5 separate regions of the Homo sapiens genome follow, and all the other regions are linked to region 1. Evidence: fine-mapped expression QTL. A gene starts in region 1. Each other region holds a variant in brackets. All regions are shown on one strand. Distances are from middle to middle.

Region 1 (4,154 bases):
TGTTGTTCTTTAACTTGATTAATGCATTATCGCCCATCTACTCAGTTCCTCAAGTTAGAGAAACTATAGCCATCTTTGATGAATTTCTATTCCTTGCACCCCTTACCTCTTCTCATGTATACTATTGATTTTACCTACACGTCTTTAAATCTCTCCTTTTCTGTCTTTCTCACCACCTCTGAGTGTAGTCCCCTATCATCTCCCTCTCTCCTTTCCCGTTATTCTATCCATAATCTCTATGGTTACCCACAAGGTGCACCAGGTAAGCATACATTCTAAATACTAATGAATCTAGAAGTTTCTGCTTGCTATGCAAAAGCTTCTAGATTAACATTCTTCCCTCTGCCTCCTTCCAATTTTTTGCAGCCTTCAAACCCTTCCTTAGCAGAGGAGTGAGAGACTGAGAATTTTAGAGGGGTTAAAGAACTGGCAAAGATTATGGAAATTAAGACAAAACTTAATAAACATGAAAGAGTGACATGAAAAGTCCAAGAAGCAGCTGTGGCCAGAATTCAAAATTCTGGTCAAGCAGCACTGACTGGCAACATGATCCAAGGTGTAGCCCTAAGGTTGGGTTGCTGAAGTGCCTAAGAGAACAAGGGCATGTGAGGCCATGTTGTTGAATGGGTCATCTCACAGACCCTGAAGTAGCTCAAATGTGTGCTATTATTCACTAACAGACAACTGGCGAGTATGAACTGCTCAGAGTAACCTTTCTCCATTCCTGGAAAAACAACTTAGAGCAAAGGACAAAGGGTTACTGTGTTGTTCCTTTCATGTAAAAGGAAATAATAATTTTGATGGATTTGGTGGGACATTTAGGAGCCAAGTCAAACTGTGTGTGTAATTGTTTTGTAAAGGTGCTAGGACTTCATTTTCAGATCCGGAATGGGAACAGGTGGTGGCTGGTGGCAGGAGTCACAATGGTTTCCATGACGACGGGATTGGGTCCTAGTCATCCTCCCATTCTCCACAAGACCTACTGCAGCTTTTCTCATAAGGTGCTTATTAAGTATTTGTTAAATGAACGATGAACCACAGAATAGCGCGTGTGCTTTGCAATTAAGGATGTCGCTCTATAGCTAGCCTAAAAGCTTTTAAAGCACCGATAATTACTGTATTTACCCATGTATTTTGCATAATTCGCATATTAACTTAACCAGAAAATAATAAACCATACTCTCCCATTTCTGCTGAACAACCCTGGCCCATATAATATTCCCTGTTGTGGAATCAGTAGCCCAGATGTTTGGTTGAAACGGCCATAAAACGGAGCTGGGGGATGGGGAGTCTTGTGTTGTATTTATGGTTCCACATTAGCTAAAACTCGTGTTTTGTCCCGGCTCTCAAGCCACTGCCCCCGCCCCCGGCTTTGCGCAGGCGCCAGCCTTCCCCTCCCCCCGCGCCTCTCTTCCCGCCCTAAGGCTGGAGCCGGCGAGCCCCAGCCCAGAGAACAAAAGGCCTCGCTAGCCGGCGTCCCGCGTTGCCCTTGGCAACCATTGAGCGGCGTCTTGCCCTTCTGCGACCCTGAGATGAGAGAGTAAACGGGGCCCCCATTGGCCGGCCGGGGAAGACGGGCCAATCGGAGAAGAGGGTATAGGGAGGCGGCTGAACAAGGTTGTGGGGGTAGGAAGCTAGGGTTAGAGGCAACCCGTGAGGCTAGAACCCCGAACGTGGTCGGTTGGAGAAAATATGTCCCTCCGGAGGCACATTGGGAACCCTGAGGTGAGGGCCAGGTCTCGGCCGGAGAGCCGGAGGGGGCGGGCGCACCGGAAAAGGCTCATGTGGGCAGGGAAGAGCAGCCAGCGACTTCCGCCGCCCGGAAGGCGGGAAGGGGCCGGCGTGAGGAGGGGTCGGGATGCAGGGGCGGGGCGGGCCGGGCTTGGGGGCCGCGGGGCAGCGTTCAGGACCCCGTTTTGAGGAGCGATCTCTCCCCGCGTACGCACGCCAGTACTTGTGACTGCGAGGAGCGAAGTACCCAAAGACACAGCCCTTGCCCTCAAATGGCTTACAGTCTCGGAGTGACAGTTACAAAACAGAAAAGACAAAGGAAGCGCTGCACACTAATGGCACGTGTTGAAAGCCAGCCAGCATCTCTGATTGTGGGGATACAGGAAGAGCAGGAGTAAGCTGACCAAACCTTTGGAAAACGGGCAAAATAGGACATTAGGCTTACCCCTCTCTCCATAGGACCCTTCAGTTTCTTCATCTGTTTCACCGCTAGTCCCCTGCTGCATTTGTGGCAGTTTCAACAAACGTTATTGGAAACTTCCACGGTGCAGTAGGTGCTAGACGTACAAAGAAGACAAGGCCTCTGCCCTTTAATAAATTGCGTATAGTGGACCAGGCGCGGTGGCTCAGCCTGTAATCCCAGCACTTTGGGAGGCCGAGGCGGGCGGATCACGAAGTCAGAAGTTTGAGACCAGCCTGGCCAACATGGCGAAACCCCGTCTCTACTAAAAATACAAAAATTAGCCGGGCGTGGTGGTGAGGCGCCTGTAATCCCAGCTACTCGGTAGGCTGAGGCAGGAGAATCGCTTGAACCCAGGAGATGGAGGTTCCAGTGAGCCGAGATCGTGCCATTGCACTCCAGCCTGGGTGATAAGAGCGACTCTGTCTCAAAAAAATAAAAATAAACAATAAATAAATTGCGTCTAGTGAAGGAGCCTGTGAACAGAATTTGAGTACAGTGTGGTCGGGGAGCAAGATGTTACGAGAAAATAGGTAGTACTCAACTGAGGGAGTGAGAGAAGGGTTGTGGAGATGGAAGGGGTGGCAAGGCCATTCATTAGCCAGGTGAAGCATCATCCCGGGTAGAACAGCCCAAGTGAAGGTAAGGAGTGTGTGAACTCAGAACAGGCCCCTGTAGGAGTCCAGGCTTTCTCTGCCTTGCTGAGGTTCTTAGCCTTTATCCCAAATAGGAGTTGTAACTGTTTCATCTCTTGGTGGCTGCCTGGTACTAGGCTGAGAAAGCTGTAAGGCTGAGTCTAAGCCCTGCAAGAGAGCCATGGTCAATTGGTAATGTCTAAATGCTGCATGATCTCACTTATACGTGGCATCTTAAAAAGTCCAGCTCATAGAAGTAGAGAATAAAATGGTGGTTACCAGAGCCTGGAGGGTGGGGGGAAGGAGGGCAGAAATGGGAAGATGTTGATCCAAGGGCACAAAGTTACAGTTAAACAGGAGGAATGGTTTTTGAGATCTCTGGCACAGCATGGTGACTATAGTTAATAATAATTACAGCAGACTCATAACCCCCAGTAGAAAATCCATGTACAACTTTTTACTCCCCTCCCCCCTGCAAAAAAACTTAACTACTAATAGCCTACTATTGACTGGAAGGCTTCCTGATAACAGAAACACTTGATTAACATATTTTGTATCTCATATGTATTATGTACTGAATTCTTAAAGTAAGCTGGAGGAAAGATTATTATTAAGAAAATCATAAGGAAGAGAAAATATATTTACTATTCATTAAGTGGCAGTGTATCATCATAAACATCTTCATCCTAATTGTCTTCATTGCTAAGGGGCAAGGAAAAGGAGGGGTTGGTCTTGCTGCCTTAGGGGTGACAGAGGCAGAAGAAAATCTGGGTATAAGTGGATCTGCACAGTTCAAGCCCATGTTGTCCAAAGTTCAACTATATTGTAGATTTCAAAATAGAGTAAATTGTATATTTTATGAGAGTAAATTTCAAATATCTCACCTCAAAAAAAAGATAAGTGGGTTGATGGATATGTTAATTTGATTTAATCATTCCACATTGTGTGTGTGTGTATATACCAAAACATCAAATTGTACCCCATAAATGTATAAAGTTATGATTTGTCTATCAAAATATTAATAAAAATGTTAATATTGTGTATCATGGGGGTGGGAGAGATAGGTGAGGAGAATGGCAGTTTGCCACATATTTATCTTGTCTGCTGGTCAGGATTTGAGAAATTTTTTGAGTTATTAAAGGAGTGACATGGTCAGATTTGCATTTTAGGCAGATGGCTGTAGCTACATTGTGGAAGATGGGTTTGAGGAGGCTCCAGGACTGGAAATGAGATTGGTTAAGTGGTTACTATTTTTTATTTATTTATTTATTTTTGAGACAGAGTCTCACTCTGTCACCCAGGCTGGAGTGCAGTGGGGAGATTTCAGC
Region 2 (4,154 bases), 320 kb before region 1:
AAAATGGGCAAAGGATATGAACAGATACTTATGAAAAGAAGACATTTATGCAGCCAACAGACATATGAAAAAATGCTCATCATCACTGGCCATTAGAGAAATGCAAATCAAAACCACAGTGAGAAACCATTTCACACCAGTTAGAATGGCAATCATTAAAAAGTCAGGAAACAACAGGTGCTGGAGAGGATGTGGAGAAATAGGAACGCTTTTACACTGTCGGTGGGAGTGTAAATTAGTTCAACCATTGTGGAAAACAGTGTGGCGAGTCCTCAAGGATCTAGAACTAGAAATACCATTTGACCCAGCAATCCCATTACTGGGCATATACCCAAAGGATTATAAATCATTCTACGATAAAGACACAGGCACACATGTTTACTGCAGCACTATTCACAATAGCAAAGACTTGGAACCAACCCAAATGTCCATCAATGATAGACTGGATTAAGAAAATGTGGCACATATACACCATGGAATACTATGCAGCCATAAAAAAGGATGAGTTCATGTCCTTTGCAGGAACACGGATGAAGCTGGGAACCATCATTCTCAGCAAACTATCACAAGATTAGAAAACCAAACACCGCACGTTCTCACTCATAAGTGGGAGTTGAACAATGGGAACACATGGACACAGGGAGGGGAACATCACACACTGGGGCCTGTCAGGGGTGGGGGACTAGGGAAGGGATAACATTAGGTGAAATACCTAATGTAGGTGACGGGTTGATGGGTGCAGCAAACCACCAGGGCATGTGTATACCTACGTAACAAAACTGCATGTTCTGCACATGTAACCCAGAATTTAAAGTATATATAAATGTGTTTGTGTGTGTGTATATATATATATATGTGTGTGTGTGCATATATATATATATATAGCACCGTACTGGCATAAATACACACACATAGACCAGTGAAACAGAATAGAGAATGCAGAAGTAAGTCCATGTATTTACATTCAATTGACTTTCAACAAAGATGCCAATAACATACAATGGGGAAAAGACAGTATTTGCAATAAATAGTGTTGGGAAAACTGGATATCCATATGTAGAAAAATATAATTAGACCCTAATTTCATACTATATATAAAAAACCCAAAATGGATTAAGACTTAAATATAAGACCTGAAACTATAAAACTACTAGAAGAAAACATAAAGGAAGAGCTTCTTGACATTGGTCTGGGAAATGAATTTTAAAATATGACCCCAAAAGCACAGGCAACAAAAGCAAAAATAGACGACAGTACATCAACTTCAAAAGCTTCTGCACAGCAAAGGAAACAATTAGCAGGGTAAAGAGACAATGTATGGAAAAAGAAAAAATGTTAGTAAACCATCTGATAAGGGATGAACATCCAAAATATATAAGAAAATTCCCATAACTCAACAGCCAGAAAACAACCCAATTAGAAAATGGGCAAAGGACCTGAAAAGACATTTCTCAAAAGAAGGCACACAAAGGGCTAATAGGTATATATATTAAAAAAAAAAAACTCAACATTACTAATCATCAGGAAAATGTAAATAAAAACCACAGTGAAATATCACTTGGCACTTGTTAGAATGGTTATTATCAAAGACAGAACATAATAAGAATGGGCAAGGATGTGGAAAAAAGGCAAGCATTGCACACTGTTGGTGAGGATGGAAATTAGTATGCCATTATGGAAACAGTATGGAGGGTCCTCAAAAACATAAAAATAGACCTGGAAATAATTAATCCATTCTTGAATAAAAGTATGGAGATAAAGTTTTTTCTTTGGAATGTGGAAAAGTCTTTTTCTTTTCTTTGGAAAATAGTTTGACAGTTTCTTTAAAAGTAAGTCATAAAACTAATACATAACCCAGCAATTCTACTCCTAGGTCCTACCCAAGATAAATAAAAACATGTGTCCAAACAAACACATGCACACAAATGTTCACAGAAGCACTGTTTATAATACAAAAAACTAGAAACAACCTAACTGATTGGTTCAACTGGTGAATGAATAGACAAAATGCAGTATATTCATATGATGAAATTCTACGCAGGAATGAAAAGGAACAAACTCTTGACACATGCTTGTCATGGATGACTCACAAAAATATTATGCTCAGCGAAATAATCCAGATGCAATAGATCACATATTTTATAACTTCACTTATATGAAATGTCCAGAAAAGGCAAACTTATAGAGAGAGCAAGTAGATTATTGGTTGCCTAGAGCTGGGGACGGGAATGGGAATTAACTTTTAATGGACATGAGGGATCTTTCTATGGGCTCATGAAAACATTCTAAAACTGATTTATGCTGATGGCTGAACCACAGGGTAGCGTTATTGAAAATTATTGTATTGTTAACTTGAAATGGATAAATGTTATGGTATGTCACATATACCTCAATAAGTTTTTTAAATTAATTACCTAATTTTTAAAAATCTAATGAAAAAAATCTGCAGAAAATTAAACTTGAAAAAGATGAAACAACAAAGAC[A/G]CCATTAGTAATGAGAAAGAAGACATCATTGGAACTATGAAATAGATTTTTAAATTGTAAGAGATTTCAATATACAACTCATATCAAATTTTTGAAAATCGAAATATGATGAACGAGCTACCTTTCTTCAAGAAAGAAGTAGAAAAACTCAAAAGACAGAAGTACAAAAACCAATAATGATGAAAAGTTGGGAGATGTTTAGCCAGACTTGAAATAGGTTAGTGGGCCTAGATGGCTATATGATGAAGCTCTTTTAGGCACTCAAGTATCACATACCTCCCATGCTACTTAACACTTCCAGAAGACAGACAACTTATTTATCTAGCTTATCTCTGCTCCCTAAACCAAAGTAATGAATAGCAAAAGACCATACTTGCTTTTGAATATAGATGCAAAAAATCTAATAAAATGTCTAATATGCAAATTCAAACACTATAGTAAAAGAATAACACAGTATGACTAACTGCCATTTGTTACAAGAACAGAACAGTTCAACAGAAGACAATCTATTAGTTTAATGCATCATATTAAGTTTTTATACCAAAATATGTATAAATCTTTTTATATGTTGGTTGATGCATCAATCTCTGGGAATAAAATAGGGAGCGATATATCCATGATTCCAAGTTACAGGGTCACAAAAATGGCCAAAGAAGATATGATGTAATATGATAATAGAAGTTCAGGGGCGACAAAGAGCACATACTATACACAGGAGGAGTATTTAGCCAAGTCTACTGAATCAAAAACAGCTTTTCACGTAGTAACCTTTAAGCTGAGATCTGAAAAACAGTGTTAGAAAGAATGGGGTTAGAGAAAGGGATTTTTTTTTTTCTGGAAGAAAGAGAAATGAGAGGAGAGAAGGGGGGAGGAGAGACTTATCTATAGAACAAGTTAAAAGATACCTTTCAGGTTTTTTGTTTGTTTTGTTTTGTTTGATACAGTGTCTCACTCTGTCGCCCAGGCTGGAGTGCAGTGGTGCCATCTCGGCTCACTGAAACCTCTGCCTCCCAGGTTCAAGTGATTCTCCTGCCTCAGTCTCCGAGCAGCTGAGAATACAGGCGTGTGCCACCACAACCGGCTAATTTTTTTGTATTTTTAGTAAAGATGGGGTTTCACTATGTTGGCCAGGCTGGTCTTGAACTCCTGGCTTCAAGTGATCCTCCCACCTCAGCCTCCCAAAGTGCTGGGATTACAGTTCTGAGCCCCCACGTCCAGCCAAAAGATATCTTTCTTGGGCGGCACTGCGTCTTAGTTGGTTAAACTGCCTGTCTAGTAAAAAAGATACCTTTCTTAATAGATGCTGTAGTAGTTTGTGTTGTGGCCCATACACACACACACAAAAATATGTCTACCAGGAATCTGTGTACGTGACCTTATTTAGAAAAAGAGTCTTTGTAGACATAATTAAGACTCTCAAGATGAGATCATTGTGAATTATCCAGGTAGGCTCTAAATCCAATGACAAGTGTCCCGAGAAGAGAAGACACAGACAGAGGAGAAGAAGATGTAAAGATGAAGGCAGAGCTGTAAGTCAAAGAGTACCAAGGATCGCTGACAGCCATCAGAGGCCGGAAGGGGACCGTGGAAGGGATTCCCCCTCAGAGTCTCCAGAAGATGTCAACTCTGCAAGACCTTCATTTTGGACTTCTGGCCATCAGAACTGTGAG
Region 3 (4,154 bases), 47 kb after region 1:
ACGTAGGTAATTTTTCTTGTGTTGGTTTTGGTTTCTGTCATGTTGTTTATTGGCTATAGATTCTGTCTTTTATGTTATCTGACTTTTTTAGAGCGAATAATTAGTTTCTGTCCACCTGGATTTAAATCCATGACCACCTTCTTGCTCTACTCTGAAGATAATCAGTAAGAACCTTTCTTTCTCCAGTTCTAAAACGTTCTCAGTGTCTTTAATGTGTGTTTATTTTCTTCCCAATTCTTTCAAAGATTTAACTCCCACGATACTTTTTTTTCCCCAGGAAACACCGCAAATGTGTGGAATATAATTCACCAGTTTAATTATGTGAGCATGTTGAGTACTTACATGCAGGTCCATTAATTTTTCACTAACAATTATTTTTTCATGCAAAAGCAATAAATAACATTGTGCTTCCAAAATGTTCAGAATACATTTGGGTAGTAATACTTTCCTAGATTTACAATAATTATTGAAATTATTATTATGACATCTTTAAATGGATACACAGGTCAGTTACAACATAAAAAATGTAATGGTGGAAATTTGTCAGCCTTGAATTCAGGCAGAACAGGATTCGGTGCATGATTTTATGTGTTTTCGAAACGGTGTCTGTCACATTGTGATCCCCTGATGGCTCCCCTCTCTGTTGCTGATCCTCTTTGTTCTGTACAGAAGCAAATTCTCACCTGTGTAACATCCTGAAGCACCTGGTAAAATGTGAGGCAAAGAGAGGCCACTTCTCAAATGCTGTGGACGGATGGGCTGCATCTTTTAAAGGATATCAATATGTCTTCCTGTTGCAATTATTTTGACTATAAGCTCCCAGAGAGTGAAAATCACCAACCCTGTGACAGTGGCCCTTAATAAGTGTTCATGAATAAATGAATTGAACCTGTCAAGATTGAAGTTTGGATGTGATGCCCACTGTGGTGGCCACTCAGTGCTAGTCTGTCATTCTGGAGACCCAGAAAGCTCGTTATCTTCTGTCCCCCTTGTGTATCCTGCCTTTGTGGGCGAGGCATTCAAAACCCTGAGGTTTTTAGATCTCCCTCTACAGGAAGTACCCAGAGAGCTGCTGGGGGTGTTATTACCCTGTCTCTGCCAGGCTTAAAGTATCCTCCCAAATTCAGCACGCAAAGGTCACACACCACCCCCATCTTAAGAGTAGGTTTTCTCTTTTGTTTCAAATCTTGAAGATTTCCAGAAAATAATAATACTAGCCAATGTTTGTGGAGAGCTTACTTTGCTCCTAGATTCTTCATTATATGTTTTGACCCATTTAATTTCCACAACAGTCTGATGAGGCAGGCACCCCCATTTTCAGATGAGGAGACTGAGGTTCGGGTAGAAATTAAGTGACTCAGGTTTGCCTTCAGTCTCTGACCAAGGGTTTGAAAAGCCAGGAGCCAGCCTGAGAACTGTGGCTCCAGAGGGTGTTCTTTCAGCCACTCCGCTCTATGCTTCTCACTCTGGGTGGGCACAACCATGTTCTCCTTTGGTGATGCCTCTAACTTACCGTGAAAATGTACCTTTCCCTTCGCTATTGGCTTCCCTTCCCTCCTAGTCAGCCGAGATTCTTTTGAAAACTTTCCTCCGCTTGCCTGCACAAAAGGCGATGGAAATTCAGGAACTGAAACATCTGCTCTGGGGAATGCGTATTTCCACATTTCCACCGCCTGTGTCTGCTGTCTTATCTTGAAGACAGGTGCTCCAGGGCTTCCGAGGTTATTTTGTCTGTTAATGGACACCTTGCAAAGTACCACTTAAGGAATGAGAATTACAAACTTTTAATTATATTGTAGGGGGAAAAAAGTAGGCTGTTTTCCTGATAGGTCTAGCCATTCATTCA[G/A]TAAACCATATTGATATGATTTGTGCCTGATCTTTTCTTTCCTTTGTGGTGATGTTTCTGATTTCGGCTGAAACATAAGTTGCATGAATTGGCGATGGCCATAGGCCTGAGTTCCCGGGGGAAGCAGAGGCAAACCTCCTTGCCCCAGTCCTTGTCAGCAGAGCCCTTATTCTACTGCACTCTTCTAAAAATGTAGCCAATACCACTACTGTGGTTAAGCAGAAGACTTTCCATTTTCTCCTTTTAGTTTGGCAATAAACATTTGGCAATCCCAGTCTCTGAGGTTGTTGGATGATGCTCAGTGTTTGAGTTGCCAAATTAATGCAGATCCTGAAAGCTTTGGGGAATAATTCATTACCCTTTGACAGTTTTTTAGATTTGACGATGCATGCTCTGTGCTTTTCTGAGAGCTTCTCCTTGATTTGGCCAATTTGAATGTTACGGTTAGTCATATCAGCTTCATCTGAGTAGCATCTGGGTCTTAGTGTGTTCACAGAATGATGTTGCTGTAGTCCTTAAAGCAAGAGTCCCTGTGCATCTTCAAATCCACCTCATCCCACTCGCCCTTGCAAAACAATTGCCAGGGTGATGAATCGCCCCGCACTGGATGAAGGACCAGTGAGGTCATATCTGGATTGTATTCAATGACATTCCCATTTTAACTTTAGGCCAAAGACAGAAAGCTAGCTGTGCATATCTGAGTGTTAATTCAAGAGGCTACCCTAAGGATTCTCATAGATCACCAATATTGGGCCCACAGGCCATTAGAGAACCATATGTAATGGTCTGAGTAAAAAGTAAAATGAGTTCATTTGAAAATAAAGATTTTCAAAGGCCCTGGGGAATAGGCATTAGCATAATCAATTCCCAAGATAGCTACAAGAACTGAATGTGAGCAGGAAGGGGTTTTGGGAATTTTCATCAAGCTACAACAAGGGGTAGGATGGGGAATGGCCCCCAACTGCATGAGCTGAGTAATCTCTTCCTTTGGTAGAAACACTGCTGCTTCCAGCTGTATCTTGGAGTGTGAATTTTTCTGAAGATAAGACAAACTGCAGCGTTCCGGGCAAGATGATGAAACATTATACCGGAGCAGAAAAAAATGAGTTTAGACAAATCAAAAGAATCTGAGTAAAAACTAAGATGGCCATTTAGCTGTTTGATGTTGATAATACACCGATGTTAGGTAACTTTACACACATGTTATCTACTGTGTTCGAAATAGCTCCCTTCACTCCCTGCCCGTTATAAAAGCTGATTATAGAAGCTCATTGCGAGAAATGCTGAGAAGCATAAAAAGGAAAACTACCACCACCACTACCCAGGTTAATCATTATTATTATTGGGGGATATATCCTTCCAGGAAGAGAAAGAGAAGGAGAGAGAGAAAGCATGTTTGTGTGTGTGTGTGTGTGTGTGTGTGTGTGTGTGTGTGTGTGTGTCTTTTAAACAAGATGGGATCCAGACTCAATATTTTGTATCCAGCTTCTTTTTTAAAACAACTGTATTGTATAAATCACATACCATAAAATTCACCCATTTTAAGTGCACAACTCAATGATTTTGAGTTAAGTTTACAGAATTGTGCAACCATCACCACAATCCAGTTTTATAACATTTCCATCTTATAGCCAGTTTCTTTCACTTAGTATGTTGTGAACATTTTTCCATGTCAACACAGCCCTTAATGGTGTCGTGTTGTTCCAGTGTGTGGATGTGTCAGATCAGCATCAAGACTGGTAATTATCTAGGTTTTTTGTTTTTTACTTTTCCAATCTTGTACATACATATTTTTGAATCCATCCAAATATTTTTATAAAGTAAATTCTTCCATGTGGGTTTTCTGGATCAAAGACACAATACATTTATAATTTTGATTTATATTGCCAAATTTGCCCTCTGGGAAGGTGGTGCCAGTTTCTGCTCCACCAGCACTACATGTTAACACTGGAGTCATCAGTCTTTTTATTCTTTGCCAATCTGATGAGAGAAAAATATCTTCATTTCTCCTTAATGAACAAGAAATCACTTAGAGGATCAGTGTCTTTCATACATGTATTGATTTGTGTTTCTTCTTAGTGGAATTGCCTATTTTTCTTTTGAAATGTTTGTCTTTTTCTTTAACCCTTTTTATTATTTTAACCCCTCAAGGTTATTAATACTTATTTTCATATCAATACTTTCATTTTTAAGTTGCAATATTTTCCAAAATTGTCTTTTAGGTTATTAATACTTATTTTCATATCAATACTTTCATTTTTAAGTTGCAATATTTTCCAAAATTGTCTTTTAGGTTATTAATACTTAT
Region 4 (4,000 bases), 130 kb after region 1:
AGGATTGCTTGAGCCCAGATAAAGATCCCTTCAGGTATTTTCTTCTCACAGTCTACAAGATATGCTCAGCCATAAGGCGCTCACCTCCATCTCATCCTTTCCATCCTCTCGCATGCAAGCCCTATATTCAATACTCTTTCAACCTTCTATCTCTCTTCATATATGCTACCCCCCAAATCCCACCAGTCTTTTATCTTCAATTTTTTTTTTTTTTTTTTTGAGACAGAGTTTCGCTCTTGTAGCCCAGGCTGGAGTGCAACCTCTGCCTCCCAGGTTCAAGTGATTCTCCTGACTCAGCCTTCCAAGTAGCTGGGATTACAGGCGCACACCACAATGCCCAGCTAAAGTATTTTAGTAGAGACGGGGTTTCACCATGTTGGCCAAGCTGGTCTCAAACTCCTGACCTCAGGTGATCCACCCGCCTCGGCCTCCCAAAGTGGGAGGATTACAGGCGTGAGCCAACGCGCCCAGCCTCAACACCAATTTTAAACCCCAACCAACACTCATGCTCTGATCTAATTACAAGTTCTCTCACCATGTTTCACCACCTTACTTCCACTCACATAAAGGGAGCCCCAAATTAGTTTATAAATGGCAGCACATCAAAAAACCCTCCCTCCAAGCAGGATATGCCATCTTTAAGGGATATCATAATGATACCCACTCTCTCCCACCTAAAAGAGTTGTAGAGGCTGCCCCCTTGCCTTTGGGCACATCCTCCCAACAAACAGAATTAGTTGCCCTAAGAGCCCTAACCCTAGCAAAAAACACACAATTTATACAGCGATTCTAAATATGCCTATAACATCATCCATTCCAATGCCCAAATTTGGAGCAAGCAGGGCTATCTCACAGCTGAGGGAACTCCTATCATTAATGGAAAACTAATCCATCATCTAAAGGCAGCTTTACTTCCAGAAAAGGTTGCAGTTATCCATTGCAAAGGACATCAATCACATTTCTTTAGGGAACTGTGAGGCTGACTATTGAGCAAAACACGTCTCAACCAATCATCCAATTCCCCAATACCTATTTCCCCTCATACAACATATCCCCTCCTTTTATCCTAAACACCAAATATAGCAACTAGTTATGGCGGGGGCACAATTCAAACCCCCATACTGGTTGATACGAACCAAATTAGTCCCACCTAACCCTGAAAAAACAACGCTTTTATGAGATATTCACAATCTCTTCCACAGTAGCCATTTACCTCTACAACATTTCATAAGTTCTCATATACACATAACCCCAGATATAAAGGAACAGTTAAAAGCCATTTCCCATCAATGCTCTATTTGCCACAAAGCGTCACCTTATTCCAACACTAAACCCCCTTCTTTCCCAACCTTTCGAGCCAGGGGACACCTTTCAGGACAAGACTGGCAAATTAATTTTACCCATATGCCCCAGTAAACAAGGTTCAATTTCTTTTAGTTCTGGCTAATACCTTGTCAGGATGGGTGGAGGCTTTTTCCATCCAACAATCGAATTTCTATTGTCGCCTCCAAATTAATAACATAAATCATCCCCAGGTTCGGGGTGCCTCTTTCTTTTCAATCTGATAATGGCCCTGAATTCATTTATCAAATTACTCAAACACTTGCACAGGCCCTACTAATCACCTGGAAGCCACACATCCCCTATCACCCTCAATCTTCAGGAAAGGTTAAAAAAATGAATAACATTCTAAAAAA[C/AC]ACCCTCACCAAGTACTCACTCCAAACACATACAAACTGGGTTACACTTTTACCTTTGGCCCTTCTAAAAATTCAGGCACTCCCACCTAAACCTCCAATGCTCAGCCCCTTTAAACTCACGTCCAAAAGACCACTCACACCTTTTGTTCCACCTCAGAGTCAAGCCCTGCCTCCACCAACCCCTCTCGTTTCCCCTCTTCTACATACCATCTGCCATTTTATTTGGGAATATGCTAACAAATGCCTGCCACAACCCGTAACTGACTCCTCTAATCCCTTCCTACACCAGGACTGGGATCCCAGTCCTACCCCCAATTCCCCCCCTCACACCTAAGTGGAAGGGACCTTACCAGATCATCCTTACTACACCCACGGCAGCAAAACTCCAAGGACTCCCCAGCTGGTTTCATTATACTTCTCTCAAGAAAACAGACTTCCCTTCACCACATACCCAAACAACCAAGTCTAAAATCCCTCAGCCTTCTCTTGTGTCTCCATAGGACCCACTTCCCTTCACCTCACCCGAATCCCGAAGAAAAAGGAAGAGAAATCCACATAAGCCGCTTACATCTCTTTCTCTCCCAAACTTTCGTCGCTTCCTAACCAACCGCATTACAGCCCTTCAGTGGTACTCTTACAGAATTCCCATTATACATCCTGAACAGCTCCTTACTGTGCTATGGGACCTACGGCTTCGAGGAACTTTCCAGGACTTTACTCCTACCCAAATAACTGTTTTCTCTTTTTCTTGTTTCTTTCAGTATAAATTCCCTAATCACATCAACCTCACCAATACAACCACTCCTAACTGCTCTCAAACTAGAACTCTCTGTAAACCTTACACGATCCCTCTTGCTGCAAGCTAACTGTTCCTTTGCTCCGGAATGCTGAATGTGCTTATCGCTGTCTTCCTCAGCTTACGCAGCTCTTCCTACAACCCTTCATGACCTTTTAACAGGAAACATAACCCTAATTTATAAATTCCAGAAAGGAGCTTCCTTTGTTAAAAGAGCTGACACCCTGGTCAGCGATTATCCTGCTTCCAGGGCCAATCAGGCCAACAAATTATTTCAAACCTATTACGACTCCCTACAACACCTCAAGCCCCAAGGCCCTCCCATTAAAGGGCCCATAACTAAACACACCCCCGTTTTACAACAAACCTCACTTTACTTTTCAGCCTCTAAGGAAAATTTCCCTGTAGGGTCCTTAACACCTAACCAGTGCAACCGCTCTCATTATTATTAAACACCCCTCTGACCACCAAACTAACAAAGTTGACTACCAAGGATCACCAGAAGCAAACAGAGCATTTTTGCAACTGGCTCTTTTCACAGCCTCTCCCTCAACCAATGCCTCTGGCCCAACCTGTGTTGTCCCTGGTGCCCACATTTTTCCATGGTTGGATATCAATAGTGCAACATCTGACTGCAGTATTGTGTAAAAAATAATTCTTTCTATATCTCTACCATAGTGGGTGTCTCCCTGGCCTCCTCCTTGTCCACCTGGAGTAATGAACCACAAGAAAGAAAAAACACCCCGTCTTTAATTCACTTGTTTTCTTTCCATATCTCCACCTGTATTTACAACGAAGTCTTGTTCTTTTGGTGTGGCACCAACACATATCTTTGTCTCCGCACCAACTAAACTGGAACCTGTGTCCTAGTTTATCTTTCTCCCTCCATTAAACTAGTTCCTCCTAATCAACCTTTACCCATTCCATCTGTCCAATCTGTTTTAAAAAAGAGGGCCATCCACGTCATTCCTTTGATGGAGGCCTTAGGTGTAACCTCTATACTTGGATTGGGAGCAGGCAGATTGGCCACGTCTTTAACATACTTTAAAAAAACTCTTTCAACAGAACTACAGGGTTCTTTAAAAAATATAGCCCGAAGCCTTATAAAAGCCCAAGACCAACTAGACTCCTCAGCTGCAGTCCTCCAAAATAAATGGGGATTAAATCTTATAACAGCTGAAAAAGGGGGCCTCTGCCTCTCATTGGGTAAGAATCAGGCCTAGTAAGAAACACTGCTGAAAAACTTTTAAAAAGGGCTAAAAAGCTAAAGGAATAGCAAAACAACCAAATAACTTCTTGGTTTGGAAACAAAATCGTAACACAGGTCATCCCATTCCTGGGCTCTGTCCTAATAATATGCCTAGGACTAATGTTCTTACCCTGCCTAATCAACCTTTTTCAAAGATATTTAACTGACAGAATCCTGCCCATCTCACAGACTACTACCCAAAAACATCTACAGACAGCGTTACTCCTACAGTCAATCTGAGATCAAAAACTCTCCGTG
Region 5 (4,154 bases), 31 kb before region 1:
GAGTTTTACAGCTAAAAATTCAAGGGCATTAAAAACAAGCAAACAAACAAACTGCCAATTCTTGTCACCATTAAATTGTTAAAACTGTTATACAGAGACAGTGGAAGGACCTCAGCCTATTAGATCAGGGACTATATACAAGATACAGAGAGGGAACCAAAATTGTTGCTCTGGAAATGTTCTTAGCTTTGGAAATGACCAAAGGCAAACTAGGGACAAAATAGGGGCTTAAGAAAAGAGTAAAGAGACCCAGTACCCTTTCCAAGTTCTAACCCCACAAACTGTTGACACAGCAATAGGAAATAAAAGTGAACATGCACAGCCAAAATGAGGAAGAATAGAGGCACAGGAAATCCAAAAATGAGAACAAGGCAAGTAGGGGAGGCAGAGATAAATGACTGCCAGAGACCAACATCCACTTAAAGCTGTCCTCAGCCCTCTCTACATTTTTCATTTCTGGTGAGTTTTTAACAGCTTTATTGAGCTATAACTGTTGTACAATAAACCACATATATTTAAAGTGTGTAATTTCATGAATTTTGACATATGTGTATACCCCTGAAATCATCACAATAATCAAGATAATAAACAAAGCCATTACCCACTCCGCAAATTTCTTCATGGTCCTCTGTAATCCATCTGTCTTCCTTTTTCACAATCTGTTATTTGCTTCCCCCATCCCCAGGTAATCACTGATCTAATTTCTATCACTATAGGTTAGTTTTCCTTTTCTAGAATTTTATATAAATGGAACCATGCAGTATGTATTCTGTTTTGATTGGCCTCTTTGACTCAACATGATTTTGAGATCCATCATGTTGCTGGGTGTATAGATAGTGTATTATTTGTTACTGCTGAGTAGTATTCCTTATATGGAATCAACTATGTAGCCATCAACTACTTATTTATTCATTTACCTAGTGACTTACAGGAAGACATTTGGGTTGCTTCCATTTTGGATTGCTATAAATAAAGCTATTATGAACATTTGTGTACAAAGCTTTGTGTGGACATATTTCTCTTAGGTAAATACTGATGATATACTTTTTATTTATTTTTAGTTTTAATTGACATTTAATAACTTTACATATTCATGGGGTATGTAGTGATGTTTCAATGCATATAATGTATAGTGAGCCAATCAGGGTAATTAGCATATGCATCATCTCAAACATTTATCATTTCTTAATGTTGGGAACATTCAATATCCTCCTCTTAGCATTTAATACTACATAATAGGCCAGGCGCAGTGGCCCATGCCTGTAATCCTAGTGCTTTGGGAGGCCGATGCAAGAGAATGGCTTGAGACCAGGAGTTTGAGACTAGCCTGAGCAACATAGTGAGACCCCTCTTTTTACAAAAAAAAAAAAAAAAAAAATTTTAATTAGCCAGGTATGATGGCATGTACCTGTAGTCCTAACTGTTTGGAAAGCTGAGGTGGGAGGATTGTTTGAGCCCAGGAGTTTGAGGCTGCAGTGAGCTATGATCACAGCATGCATTCCAGCCTGGGTGACAAAGTGAGACCCTATCTCTAAGAAAAAGGGAAGGAAGGAAGGAAGGAAGGAAGGAAGGAAGGAAGGAAGGAAGGAAGGAAGGAAGGGAGGGAGGGAGGGAGGGAGGGAGGAAGGGAGGGATAAAAACTACATATTATTGTTAACTATGGTCACCTACAGTGGAATACAACACTGGAATTTACTCTTTCTATCTAGCTATAATTTTGTATTCTTTAACAAATTTCTTCCTATTCCCTCCTTCCACCTGCCCTTCCCAGCCTCTAATATCCCCTGTCCTACTTTTCACTTCTATGAGATCAACTGTTTTTTAGCTTCCACATACGAGTGAGAACGTGTGGTGTTTAACTTTCTGTGTCTGGCTTATTTCACTTAACATAACGTCCTCCAGTTGCATCCGTGTTGCCACGAGTGACAGGATTTCATTCTCTTTATGGCTGAATAATATTC[C/T]ACTGTGTATATATTACCATGTTTTCTTTTCTTCCTTTTCTTTTTTAACTCCTGGCAAGCTGTGAAACTATGTTTTGTTTATCCATTCATCTATTGCTAGACAACTAGGTATGATGATGTATTATGATTTGGGTTTGATTTGTTAAACTTTTGTTAAGATTGTGTCTATGTTCATGAAATATATTGGAATATAGTTTTCTTTCTTATAATGCCTTTGTCCAATACTAGTATCAAGGTAATGCTGACCTAACAAGATAAGTTGGGAAATGTTTCTTCCTCTTCCATTTTTCAGAAAAATGTATTGGTATTATTTATAGCATTGGTATTATTACTCCCTTAAATTTTGGTGGAATTTATCAGTAAAGTTATCTTGCCCTGGAGGGGTTTGTTTTGTTGGCTAGTTAATGTTATGGGGGAAGAGGGTTTTTAGTCTATAAATCCAATTACTTTAATACATATAGGACAATTCAGGTAAGCTATTTCTTCTTGAGTGAGATGGTGGTTTGTAACATTGTCAAAATTTATTGGCATGTATTTTTTTCATAAATAGTATTATCTTTTTAATGCCTATAGGTACTCTGGTGATATCCCCATTATATCTCCTATAATATTTATTCCTGATATTAGTAGTTTGCGCCTTCTCTCTTTTCTTCCTGATTAGTATACTACATATTATCAACTTTATTGATATTCCCAAAGAACCAGCTTTTAGCCATCTGAAAAGAATGAGCTCTTGAAATGCCTGCAGTGGCTTACTCCTGTAATCCCAGCTACTTGGGAGGCTGAGGTGGGAAGATCACTTGGGCCCAGCAGTTCAAGGCTGCAGTGATCTATGATCATGCCATTGTACTCCAGCCTGGGCAACAGCAATACCCTAAAAAAAAAAAAAAATAGTTCCAGGACCTTGGACCATTAGTTAATATCTTATCATGAGATCATTCCAATCTAATGTCTAAAAAGACACAAATATTAGTGCAACTAAAGTATCTCAGGTTGCTAAGGAATTATGCTTGAACATAAATTCACCTTCCATCTGGATATATGAGTCCCCAGCAGGATCAACAGGCTGGGCTTCCTGATACTACAAAATCCAATTTTTCCTTGACAATCAAAAACCTGCTGATGTTCTTAGACCAATGCTTGAGTCAACTGTGTCCCTATATAATTTTCTAGGCAAGTTTGTGTCTCCCTAAATGCTGCCCTCTCTGTTGAAAACCAAAGATTAGCATGACTAAACGAGAAGGAAGGGAGAAGATACAAATTGCCAGTATTAGAAATAAAAGGAGAGAGATCTGACAAATATTAAAAAGGATACTAAGGCAATGTTACAAACAACTCTATGCCCCCAAATTCAAAAGCTTTGATAAAATGAACCAATTCCTTAAAAGATACAAACTACAGAAGGAATAGATAAGAATAGTTCTGATAATGCTATATTTATTAAATAAATTAAATTTGTAGTTAAAAACTTTCTCAAAAAACTCATGGCAAGATGTTTTTACTGTGAATTCTACTGAATATTTAAGGAAAAAACAACACATTCTCTACACATTCTCTTCCACAAAATAGAAAAGGACAGACCACTTCCTGACTTATTTTATGAGGTCAGCACTACCCTAAATACGAAAATCAGACAACAGAAAACTACAGACTAATATAACTCATAGACAAAAAAATCCTTCACCAAATATTAGCACATTTAATTCATCAATACATAAAACAGACAATACATATGACCAAGTGGGGTTCATATTAGGAATATAAGTCTACATCAACATCCAAAAATCAATCAATGTAATTAACCACATTAATAGACTAAAGTGAGAAAAATTATATGACCAATTCAGTAGATACAGAAAAAAGCTTCTGATAAAATTTAACATCAATTCATGGTCAAAATTTTTGGCAAACTAGAAATAGAAGAGAACTTCTTTAACCTAATAAATGGTATCTACAAAAAAAAACCCTATTACTAACATCATAATTAATGGTGAGAGATTGAATCCTTTTCCTCTAAGGTCCAGAGAAAGGCAACAATGTCCTCTTTACGATTCCAAGTAAACATTATACTTGAGGTCCTAGTAGTGCAATCAGGTAAGAAAAATAAATAAAAGGTATGTAGATTAGAATAAATAAATGTAACTTTCTTTGATCACATGCAATATGATGGCTTATGTAGAAAATCCCAAAGAA

Alleles and levels. Alleles are on the strand shown, and positions count from the first base shown. SD is a standard deviation of normalised expression in the study named. Not every link is listed here.
In carriers of allele G in region 2, the expression in esophagus mucosa of the gene that starts at base 1,643 in region 1 tends to be higher than with A alone (large effect, 0.78 SD a copy in GTEx).
For the expression in subcutaneous fat of the gene that starts at base 1,643 in region 1, allele T in region 5 goes with a lower level than allele C (small effect, 0.16 SD a copy in GTEx).

The links. PIP is the estimated chance that this variant, and not a neighbour inherited with it, causes the effect.
Region 2: its variant is fine-mapped to the expression of CEP41 in esophagus mucosa (GTEx, PIP above 0.99).
Region 3: its variant is fine-mapped to the expression of CEP41 in whole blood (TOPMed, PIP above 0.99). The same link has a PIP of 0.9 or more in caudate, cerebellar hemisphere, cerebellum, esophagus mucosa, esophagus muscle and gastroesophageal junction.
Region 4: its variant is fine-mapped to the expression of CEP41 in NK cells (Schmiedel 2018, PIP 0.94).
Region 5: its variant is fine-mapped to the expression of CEP41 in subcutaneous fat (GTEx, PIP 0.92).

Annotation. Positions count from the first base shown.
Region 1 is chr7:130,438,505-130,442,658 of GRCh38, reverse strand. It overlaps CEP41 (centrosomal protein 41), which reads left to right and starts at 1,643. Exons shown (of 11, transcript NM_018718.3): 1 at 1,643-1,725. The coding sequence starts at 1,693. LOC105375505 (a long non-coding RNA gene) reads right to left here and starts at 905. Exons shown (of 3, transcript XR_927973.3): 1 at 1-905. RefSeq lists an enhancer at 1,203-1,957.
Region 2 is chr7:130,761,137-130,765,290 of GRCh38, reverse strand. All of the region lies in intron 3 of LOC105375508 (a long non-coding RNA gene), which reads right to left. Among named protein-coding and RNA genes, the nearest start is that of KLF14, 29 kb to the right of the region's middle. The variant A/G (reference allele first, on the strand shown) is at 2,485.
Region 3 is chr7:130,391,482-130,395,635 of GRCh38, reverse strand. It overlaps CEP41 (centrosomal protein 41), which reads left to right. Exons shown (of 11, transcript NM_018718.3): 11 at 1-1,865. Among named protein-coding and RNA genes, the nearest start is that of CPA1, 13 kb to the right of the region's middle. RefSeq lists an enhancer at 895-954. The variant G/A (reference allele first, on the strand shown) is at 1,847.
Region 4 is chr7:130,313,129-130,317,128 of GRCh38, reverse strand. The region is part of intron 10 of CPA4 (carboxypeptidase A4); the gene reads right to left. Among named protein-coding and RNA genes, the nearest start is that of CPA4, 22 kb to the right of the region's middle. The variant C/AC (reference allele first, on the strand shown) is at 1,698.
Region 5 is chr7:130,469,699-130,473,852 of GRCh38, reverse strand. No RefSeq gene overlaps it. Among named protein-coding and RNA genes, the nearest start is that of MESTIT1, 19 kb to the left of the region's middle. The variant C/T (reference allele first, on the strand shown) is at 1,962.